Linked DNA regions of Homo sapiens: region 1 is linked to region 2. The links come from fine-mapping of genetic effects on gene expression. A gene starts in region 2. The other region holds a variant in brackets. All regions are shown on one strand. Distances are from middle to middle. Region 1 overlaps IGSF21 (immunoglobin superfamily member 21). Region 2 holds the start of IGSF21 (immunoglobin superfamily member 21).

Region 1 (4,386 bases), 32 kb before region 2:
TGGTTGGGTGGATGATGAAGTCCCAGATTGAGCCAAGGCCATCTGGGAAGGGGCAGGGAGGGCCCGAGGGCCAGGGAAGACTTCCTGGGTCTTGTATCCTAATCTTCATTTTGGGCAGGGGGAGAAGAACCATCAGGTGATCAAGTAAGGGTAGAACATCTGACCATCACAGCTCCAATAATGTGGCAAAGGCGGAACAAGCCAGGGCGTTGAGTCAGAGAGGCCTGAGTTCTAATCCCGGTTGGACCAGTTAATTGACCACTCTGGGCCTCAGTCTTCTCATCTGTAAAATGGAGACGAGCCTCCTACATAGGCTGTTGTGAGGATTAAGGCCTTTATAGGTGCTAGTCATAGAGTAGTTGTTCATTAAATGGAGTCCCCTTGTCCTGATACGGATTGCTAGAGAAAGAGAAGCACGTGCTTGTTTCTCACCTTCTCTCCTCACCCTGTTGGTTTTGGTTTTGTTTATTTTTCATCCAAACTGTGCTTTATTTTATATATACATATACATATAAAAATTATTTTGCGACAGTATCACTCTGTTGCCCAGGCTGGAATGCAGTGGCACAATCTTGGCTCACTGCAGTTTAGGCCTCCGGGGCTCAAGTAATCCTCCCACCTCAGCTTCCCAAGTAGCTGGGACCACAGGCATGCACCACCATGCCCGGCTGATTTTTGTATTTTTTGTAGAAATGGGGGTCTTGCTATGGTGCCCAGGCTGGTCTCAAAGTCTTGGCCTCAAGCAATCGGCTCGCCTTGGCCTGCCGAAGTGCTGGGATTACAGGTATGAGCCACTGTGCCCAGCCATGAACTGTGCTTTAAATTGTATAAAGTGTATGTCCATCTAATAACTTGTGAAACAGCTGGAGATGTTGTCCAGGAATGTATTATTGTCCCCGTCTTTACAAATAAGGAAATGGAGGCCCAGAGAGGTAAAGCGACTTGCCTAAAGTCATCCAGCAAGTTGAGAGTAGAGCAGAGAATTAGCTCTCCAGGTCCCTCACTCTCAGTCATATGCTTCTTCCTGCCCCAGTGGCTACTGGTGATCCACAGCATCCTCCCTGTCCTCTGTGTGTCAGCCTCTCCCCCAACCCCCTGCCCTACATCCCTGTGTTCCAGCAAGTTCTCTGCCTGCTGAGAACTTGATGACAGCCAACCCTGCTCAACCAGAAAGTGGGAAGTTCCTTCTTTTGTCTGACTGCAGCTTCTCTTGCTTTAAAGTCAACCTATCTCTTTTTCATCATTGGCAGGTGGGCAAAACTTTGGCCCACCATTCACCTCATTACATAATAATGACAGTAGTCATTATAATAAATAGAAACAAGACAAAGCAAGGTCTCAGAGCTTTAAACTCTCTCTCTCCTCCTCCCTGTCTTCCTCCCGACTAGATGAGACCTTGAGCTTAAGATCCTTCCTTCTCAAAGCCAATTCCCATCAGCCTGGATGCCCAGCCTTCAGTTCCACTTGTCCCAGCATCCTGTCCTGCTGGGTGACCCCCGAGGTGGTGAGGAAAGAGAAAAGGTTGTGAAGGCATGGAGACTGGGGTGCTTCACTCTGGTCGTGCTCTCCTCAGATGGATGCTAAGCCCTCATTGTGCCACGTTTGCTGGGTTCCTGTGTGCAGACACAGGTCAAAGGCCACAGGGAGCAGAGGGCTAAGGGGTGTACAAGATTCACACCTGGGCTACCTCCTCCCCCAGAGAGCTGGGCAGCAAAGAAATGTGGTCTCAGGCCTCAAAGAATAAGTGGGGAGAAGGGGCAGCCCGCAGAGGATGGTAATCCTGGGTGTAAATGCCATGACAGTGGAAGGAGCCTATGTGGATGCTGAAGAGGGATCCCCCCTGCCAAGCCAAGCACAGGGCGTAGTCAGGGAAGACTTCCAAGAAGAGGTGACCACTGAGCTGAGTCCAGAAGGATGTCTTGGCATGAGCCAGGTGAAGAGGAATGGGAAGGCAACCAGGCAGAGGGCACAGCAGGAGCAGACACGCGACTGTGAAGCATGGTCTGGCTGGGGAACTGGAGCCACGATGTGGGAGTGCCCGCTTCCATGGAGCATGCATATGCGGCCGCCTCCAGTGCTTTCCAGATCCTCACCCATGTGATCCCCACAGCTGCCCCCACTCTAGGCACATTGAGGCTTGGTTTGGGCTCCCCGAGATGCAGACTGTGAGAAAATAATTCAGATGCAGGTAGCTTATTCGGGAAGTGACCCAGGAAACATCAGTGAGGGAGCAGGAAGGCAGGGCAGGATACTGGGTGCATTAAGCCAGCTTTCCTGCAGGCAACTAGAACTCCACCCTGCTGGGGAACTAGGCGAGACAGGGTAGAAGATACACCTCCAAGTATCAACACCAACAGCAAGGAAGCTGCGTGATTCCAGCA[C/T]TCTGGGATGCCGAGTGGAGAGAATCGCTTGAGTCTACAAGTTTGAGACCAGCTTGGGCAACATAATGGGACCTCTGTCTCTACAAAAAATATTTAAAAATCAGCCAGGCACGGTGGTGCACACCTGTAGGCTCAGCTACTCAGGAGGCTGAGGCAAGGATTGTTTGAGCTGGGGAGGTTGAGGCTGCAGTGAGCCGTGATCGCACCACTGCACTTCAGCCTGAGCGACAGAGCGAGACCCTGTCTAAATAAAATTTTTTATTTTTTTTAAAAAAAAGGAAGTTGGGATATTCATTCTCGAACTCCCTGTCTGTCCTTGGTTGAGAGCTGCTTCCAGGAGCCCTAGCTCTCTGCACTTCTGGCCTGCCCTGTGCACTGGCCAGGGATGCTGCCTCAGGCAATGAGTTTCATTCACAGTAAGCAGACTTTGGCGGGTGGAGAGAAATACAGAGAGTACAGCCAGGCACTGACAGCATCTGCTACAATATTAACCCCATCTCACAGATGAGGAAATTGAAGCCTAGGGCATCCAGATAATGAGGCCTAGGTCACACACCCAACACGTTGTGGGGCTGGCCTTCAAACCCAGAGACCTGTCCCAGAGCCTTTGACCATAACCACTGAGCCACACTGCCTGACAGTGGTCCATTCCTGACCTGACGACAGCACTGCAGAGGGTGGTGAAAAATGAAGACAGAGGGGAAGGCCCTGGGCTCTGGAATGGGAGCAAGAAGCTCTGGGAGGCCGAAGACACTGGGAAGAGGGTGGGTGAGATGGATCGCCCAGGGAGCCTGCACGATCTTCCAGCAGGGGGAGGTGCTCAGGAACCCAACTGGCCCCATCATCGTGTGACGTAGACAGCTCCCGGAACCCTGAGCTTTGAGTCAGATGCCCCGGCTCCCATCCCTCTGGTTCAGCGACCGCATTTTCCCAGCCCAAATGAGAATTTCTCATTAGACACAGCACTCCCAGTGGGAAGGGAAGAGTGAATTTATTCATGCAAAAAGTGTTACCAAGATTTAAACATTAGAGTGCATTTGGTTATATATACCACAAATTATCTTTATTGAAAAGAATAAAAAGTGTTGCCATTGGGACCATCCTAGAGAATCCAGAAAATATGGACTCTGCACCCAAGAGGGAAGAGCGCTCCTGCACCAGCAGCATTGAATTCAGTGGGTAAGGATGTGGGTTTTAACGGCAAAGCCACGACCAAGCACACTGGCTGGCACTCAGCAGGTGCTTACTAAGTGCTTGAAGACAAAATGACAGGTCTGAATCCCAACTCTCCCAGACTCTCTTTGTGGCTCTCTCTGGGCCTCAGTTTCCTCATCTGTAAAAAGAGGACAATAATGTCCATTGACAAGACATTTAGCTAATTCAGGGAAGGGCCTTAGCGGGCATCCTGGCTCATAGTAAGTGCTCAGTTAATGGTGGTGGCGAGGGAGCAGATGCCAAGCTGGCATCTTGCACTTCTTTACCTAAAAGAAGTCTGCTGTGAGAGCACTTGGCCCATGTGTGGGGCAGGTCACTGAGAGGTGGGGGTTAGAGGATCAGTACCCCAGCTTCCTCGCCCCTTGCCAGGTGATTCAGAGTATGTCCCACACTGCCTGTCAGCGGTTCCCTCACTGAGAGAGCAAAAGTGAAAACCGCATCAGTTGCTTTTCTTTTCCCAGCCCACATCCCTCCTGCTGCTACCTCCTGGGGTCATTCCCAAAATAAACCCCTGCATCCAAATCCTTCTCTCTGGCTCTGCTTTGAAGGGAACCCCAAAAGCAAGCAATAACAGTAGCAGTAGTAGGAATACGGTCCCCCGTGCTAGACCCCAAAGAAGCAAGTGATCAAGCAACACCCCACTGGTCCCTGCTTACTTCTCAGGCCATCGTAAGGATGGATTGAGATAAACAGCTGGACAAAGCTGTGGAAATGAAGAAAGTGAGGCCACATGTCCTGCGAGGGATTATTATATTTCCTCGATGAGATAAGGATCTTAAAGCTCACTGGT
Region 2 (4,386 bases):
GACCCCACCCTCGTGTGCTCTCCTCTGCGGAGAAGAGAGGGCTCCCGGCTGCCTCGGATCTCCCTCTGCGCCCCAGACGCGGAAAGTTTCCCATTCGCGATCCGCGTCTGCGCTCTTCCTTCATCCTGAGCAGCGGAGCTCCGAGGCCGCGCTGGCTGCACCGGCCCAGATGCGCTCACCCTCAGGCACGCCAACCCCCGCCTCCCGCAGCCCGCAGAGGCGGGCAAAGGGATTTGAGGCGTCAGGATGCCGGGTCAGCTCTCTGCAGCCGGGCAGCCAGAAGAACCCTGCTCCCGGGTTCCAGGGAGAGCTCGCAGGGTGGGGTCCTGACGGAGCCAGGGTTTCCCAACAAGCCCTTCTCATCAGTCCTCTCCTTCACCCTGCCGCGTCTCTCTGTTCTGCGCATTCCCAGGGAAAGGGGTGCTTACCTTAGGTCCCCAGCCTCCAACCCCCGCCCCCTGCAATGTCCAGGTGAGGGCTCCAGTGCCTTTCAACAAACCCCAGTGCCCTCTCGGCGGCGCTGGAACGAGGACCTCCCCCATGTAACCTTTCCCTCTAGAGCCCTCCTCCCAAAGTTGAGGGGGGACATTTTGATCCACTTAGGAAAGTCTCTTGTTCCAAGGGTAGGGGAACAAAGTACAGGGTTTGCATTCCTTCTGGGTTACACCAACCCCTCCCCCCTCGCTGTCAGGACCACCTTCCGGGCTCAAATTCTGCAGCTTCTCCCATCAGCAGACCCAGCACTCCCCAAGGACTTCGGGGTAGAAGGAGTTGGGGTTATTTTTAAGGGGGCACCCCTTCCTGGCAGGCACTCTCAGAGCCTAGGTAGGCACCTCCTGCTGGGACAAGGCTATGGCATAGGACAGAGGTGATGCCCACCTCTATCATCCAGTGGGGCTCGGGGTCGAGACCTTATTGATCATAAAGACGACTTTTTGGCACCTCGCGTCCCGCTCCCCTCCGAGGCGGAGCCAGGCTCTGACTCCAGCCAGGCTGAGGTTGGCACCAGGCTCCGAGGAGGATCCCGGACGCGGAGCCTGTAGTCTCGGTGCCTGCGGCTCTTCGCTGGTCCCGCCTCCCTCCCTCCTGGCTTTTAGCCTCACGTTGGCTCTCTGCTCACTGCGCGAAAGGGTTCAGCTCCATTTAAGACCCACTACGCGGCGGCACTGGGTGGGAGGCCGGCCGCGGACCCTGGGGCTGCGGAGCCACCTCTCACTGGCTCCGGAGAACCCGCTCGGCTTCAACCTCCTTCTAGCTGTCTTAGCCTAACCCGGGAGCAAGTCCACACGGCGGGACACACACACACACACACACACACACACACTGAGCTGCTCACAACTCCCCAGCCCCGGAAGCGTCCATACCTCCCTGCACACGATAACCACACGCTCCATGGCACGCATACACACACTCCCAGCCCCATGAAGCCCACGACTCCCAGGCACCTGCACCCCCACCCATCCCACATAAGCAGACTCTTGTCCAGTGTCACAGTCCCATCTCCTGTGCACACAGAAATAGTAATCCGCTGTCGTACACCCCTAGAGACCTGCACACTCGGGACACACGTGAAACGCCAAACCTCACATACCCACCCCCTAACACCTCACACCCACAGTGACACAAGCTCACACACTTCACACCCTCACAGGGAAGGTGGCACATGTTCACACCCTCCCCCCAACATTCGCTCACACTCTCACACACACACCTTCTCCATGTAACTGACACAGACACTCTAACACCCATCCAGACCCTCGCTCACTCACACGCAGACCCCACACCATCACACACACACGCACACACACACTTGCATCTCTAAATACACTCCCGCACCTTCTGCCCACACAGCTCCTTCCCGGACACCCTCACCCAGACACACAACAAAGACACACAATTTACACACACACACACACCCTGGCACAAATCCATGAGCGCTCTCCAAGAGGCGTCCTCCCTCCCTCATCGAGCCAACCAGCTCCACAGACCCCGGGCAGGACCGGTGCTCGTAGCCCGAGCCTCTCGGAGCGACCCCGGCCAGCGCCCTCCCCCGGCACCCCGTCCCCGCGCACGTTCACCGCTCGGCTCCCGCCAGGCGCCCGCGCACTCACCGCGCGCCAGGTCCAGGATCGCGGCGAGCAGCAGGCAGACGCAGCGGCGGAGGCTCGGGGCGGTTCGCATGGTGCCCGGGAGCTGGCGGCGGTGGCGGGGCGGCGGGGGTGGAGGCGGTGGCGGCGGGTCCCCTCGCCATGGGCTCAGACGCGCTCCTGCCTCCGGCCACTGGCCGAGGCGGTGGCGGGCAGCGCGGAGAGCCGCGGGGGCGCCCCCATGCCGCCGCGGCCAGGCAGCCCGGGCGCCCGGCTCGACTCGGCTCCGGCTCTGCGAGGCGCAGCGACCCTCGCGCTCTGGGCGTCCTCGGGGCTCGCCGCGGTTCTCGGCTCCCTAGCTGCGCGCGGTGCCCACCGCGGCCCAGAGTCCGATCGGCTGCAGCGCCGGAGTTTGGAGCCGAATCGCGCTCTCTGCCTCGCGCTCGCCTCTCCCGGCGGCGCGAGCACCCCCCTCCTCTCGCCCTCCCTCCGTCCCTCCCCCTCTCCCCGCCCCCCCGCCCTCCTTGCCCTCCCCTCGCCGCGCTCTCCGCGTATTATACAGACTTTTCTTTAATCCTTTCTGGGCTGTTCGGCTCTCGTCCGCTAAGCCGATTTATTGCAGGGAGAAGGAGAGCTCACCCCCTCCTAACCTCCCCTCTCCCCTCACTCAGGTCCCCCCTCACTCAAAACTGGCTTGCTGCCTCCAGCTTCTTAACCCTTACCCAGGTGACCCAACACCCCGCCCTGGAAGCTATGCTCCATCGGATCCGCCTTTACCTAGCCCCTCCTATCCCCGGGATTACCATCGCCCTCCCCGCTACTCAGCCTGATGAAAGGAGGCAGCCTCCCTCCCGAGAGGGAAAGATGCCATCCTGGGAGCAGGGCAGGCAGGGTGTGGCTCTGGAGTTCTGACCTTGCCAACGATGAATGCCCTCATTGGGCAAGATTAAGGGGTTTCCATGTTCTGAAACTTCCCCAATTACGGCTGCTCCTTCCCCCAGGGACCCACGGAAATGGGGTGTGTTCTGTCTTTTTCCCATGTGCTAGGATCCAGCCAGGAAGGGTGAGGAACTGATTGTTTCCTCCTGGCAGAGACCAAGTTTCCACCTTTTTGCCAGACCTGACAGCTTTTCTTCCCAGGTCCGAGAAGAACAGGTTTGGGACTTGTATGTTACCATTACTCTCCCACCAACACACACGCGAGCACACACACACACACACACACACACACACACACACCATTGAGCCTCAGCCCTGGCGGTGGACTTTGAGGCCTCCTGCGAGGATGAAGGGGAGGGGTACTCTAGCCCTTGGAGTGGACTGGGGATGTGGTTAGATGAGGAAGTTCAGGAGATAGAATTTCACCATTGGTAGGGACCCAGAAGATTGGCAAAGCCCAGAAAAACCAGCACGACCAGGGGCAAAACCTGCTCAGAACTCAGGTGGGTCCCTTTACCCAGGCCTTCTATGGAGAATCTCCAGCTTCCCTAGCTCTGGCAGGTTGCTGAGTCAGGCTGTTGCATCGTTTACCTACATGGGCAATGGGTCTATAGCCAGTTCCATCTCCAGCAGCCCTCTGAGAGGAGTGTAGGGAGTGGGGTGGGCAATGGGTGGTTGCTGGGCTGCCTCTGGGTGAGCTTTGTGCAGAGATGTCCATGAAAGTGAACTGCTCCCTCCTCCTGCCCTCTGGAACCTCACCCCATCGCCTCCCAAGGCAGCTCTGCGGCTCAGCTTGCTCACCCACCCCAGAAGGAGCGATTTGCATTTATGAAGATCTGAAAGCATACGTTCACCTGACAGGCTTTAGAATGATCCTCTCAGTAAAATAATAATAATGATCATAATAAACCCTTATAAATAGGTGTTTGATTACAGTTTGTCCCTAAGTGGGATTTTTTTTTTTTTTTTTTTTTTTTTTTTTTGTGAATCAGACTAATTGGTTCCAGGTTGATTGGACTGCATATGGCTTGAACACTTGATGAACACTGGAGTCTTAGGTCCTTTCTTCTCCCTTTGGCTGCTGTTCTTTGCTCCCTCTCACTCGCATCCACCCAGGTCTCCCCTTCTCCAGGCTGCTGAGGGTCAGCTTGAGGTCACCTCTCCCCCTCACCTTCTTCTCAGGCTGCAGGGCACAGTCCCTTACTGCCTCCTCCCTGGCCCTCCCTCCCCACTCTGACCCAAGAAAAAGTCAACAAACCCAAAAGTCCATCCCAGGTTCTAAATCCTCTGTGGAAGGGGCTCCCTGGCTGGGGAACAGCATCAGGTTCATGCGGTTCCTTGTGCTGGTCTGAGTTGTGCA

The links. PIP is the estimated chance that this variant, and not a neighbour inherited with it, causes the effect. A credible set is the group of variants that fine-mapping cannot tell apart.
Region 1: its variant is the best candidate, but not a certain one, in a credible set for the expression of IGSF21 in prefrontal cortex (GTEx, PIP 0.68).

What each region holds. Positions count from the first base shown.
Region 1 is chr1:18,138,207-18,142,592 of GRCh38, reverse strand. The region is part of intron 1 of IGSF21 (immunoglobin superfamily member 21); the gene reads right to left. Among named protein-coding and RNA genes, the nearest start is that of IGSF21, 33 kb to the right of the region's middle. RefSeq lists an enhancer at 1-372. The variant C/T (reference allele first, on the strand shown) is at 2,382.
Region 2 is chr1:18,105,924-18,110,309 of GRCh38, reverse strand. IGSF21 (immunoglobin superfamily member 21) reads right to left here and starts at 2,512. Exons shown (of 10, transcript NM_032880.5): 1 at 2,112-2,512. The coding sequence starts at 2,181.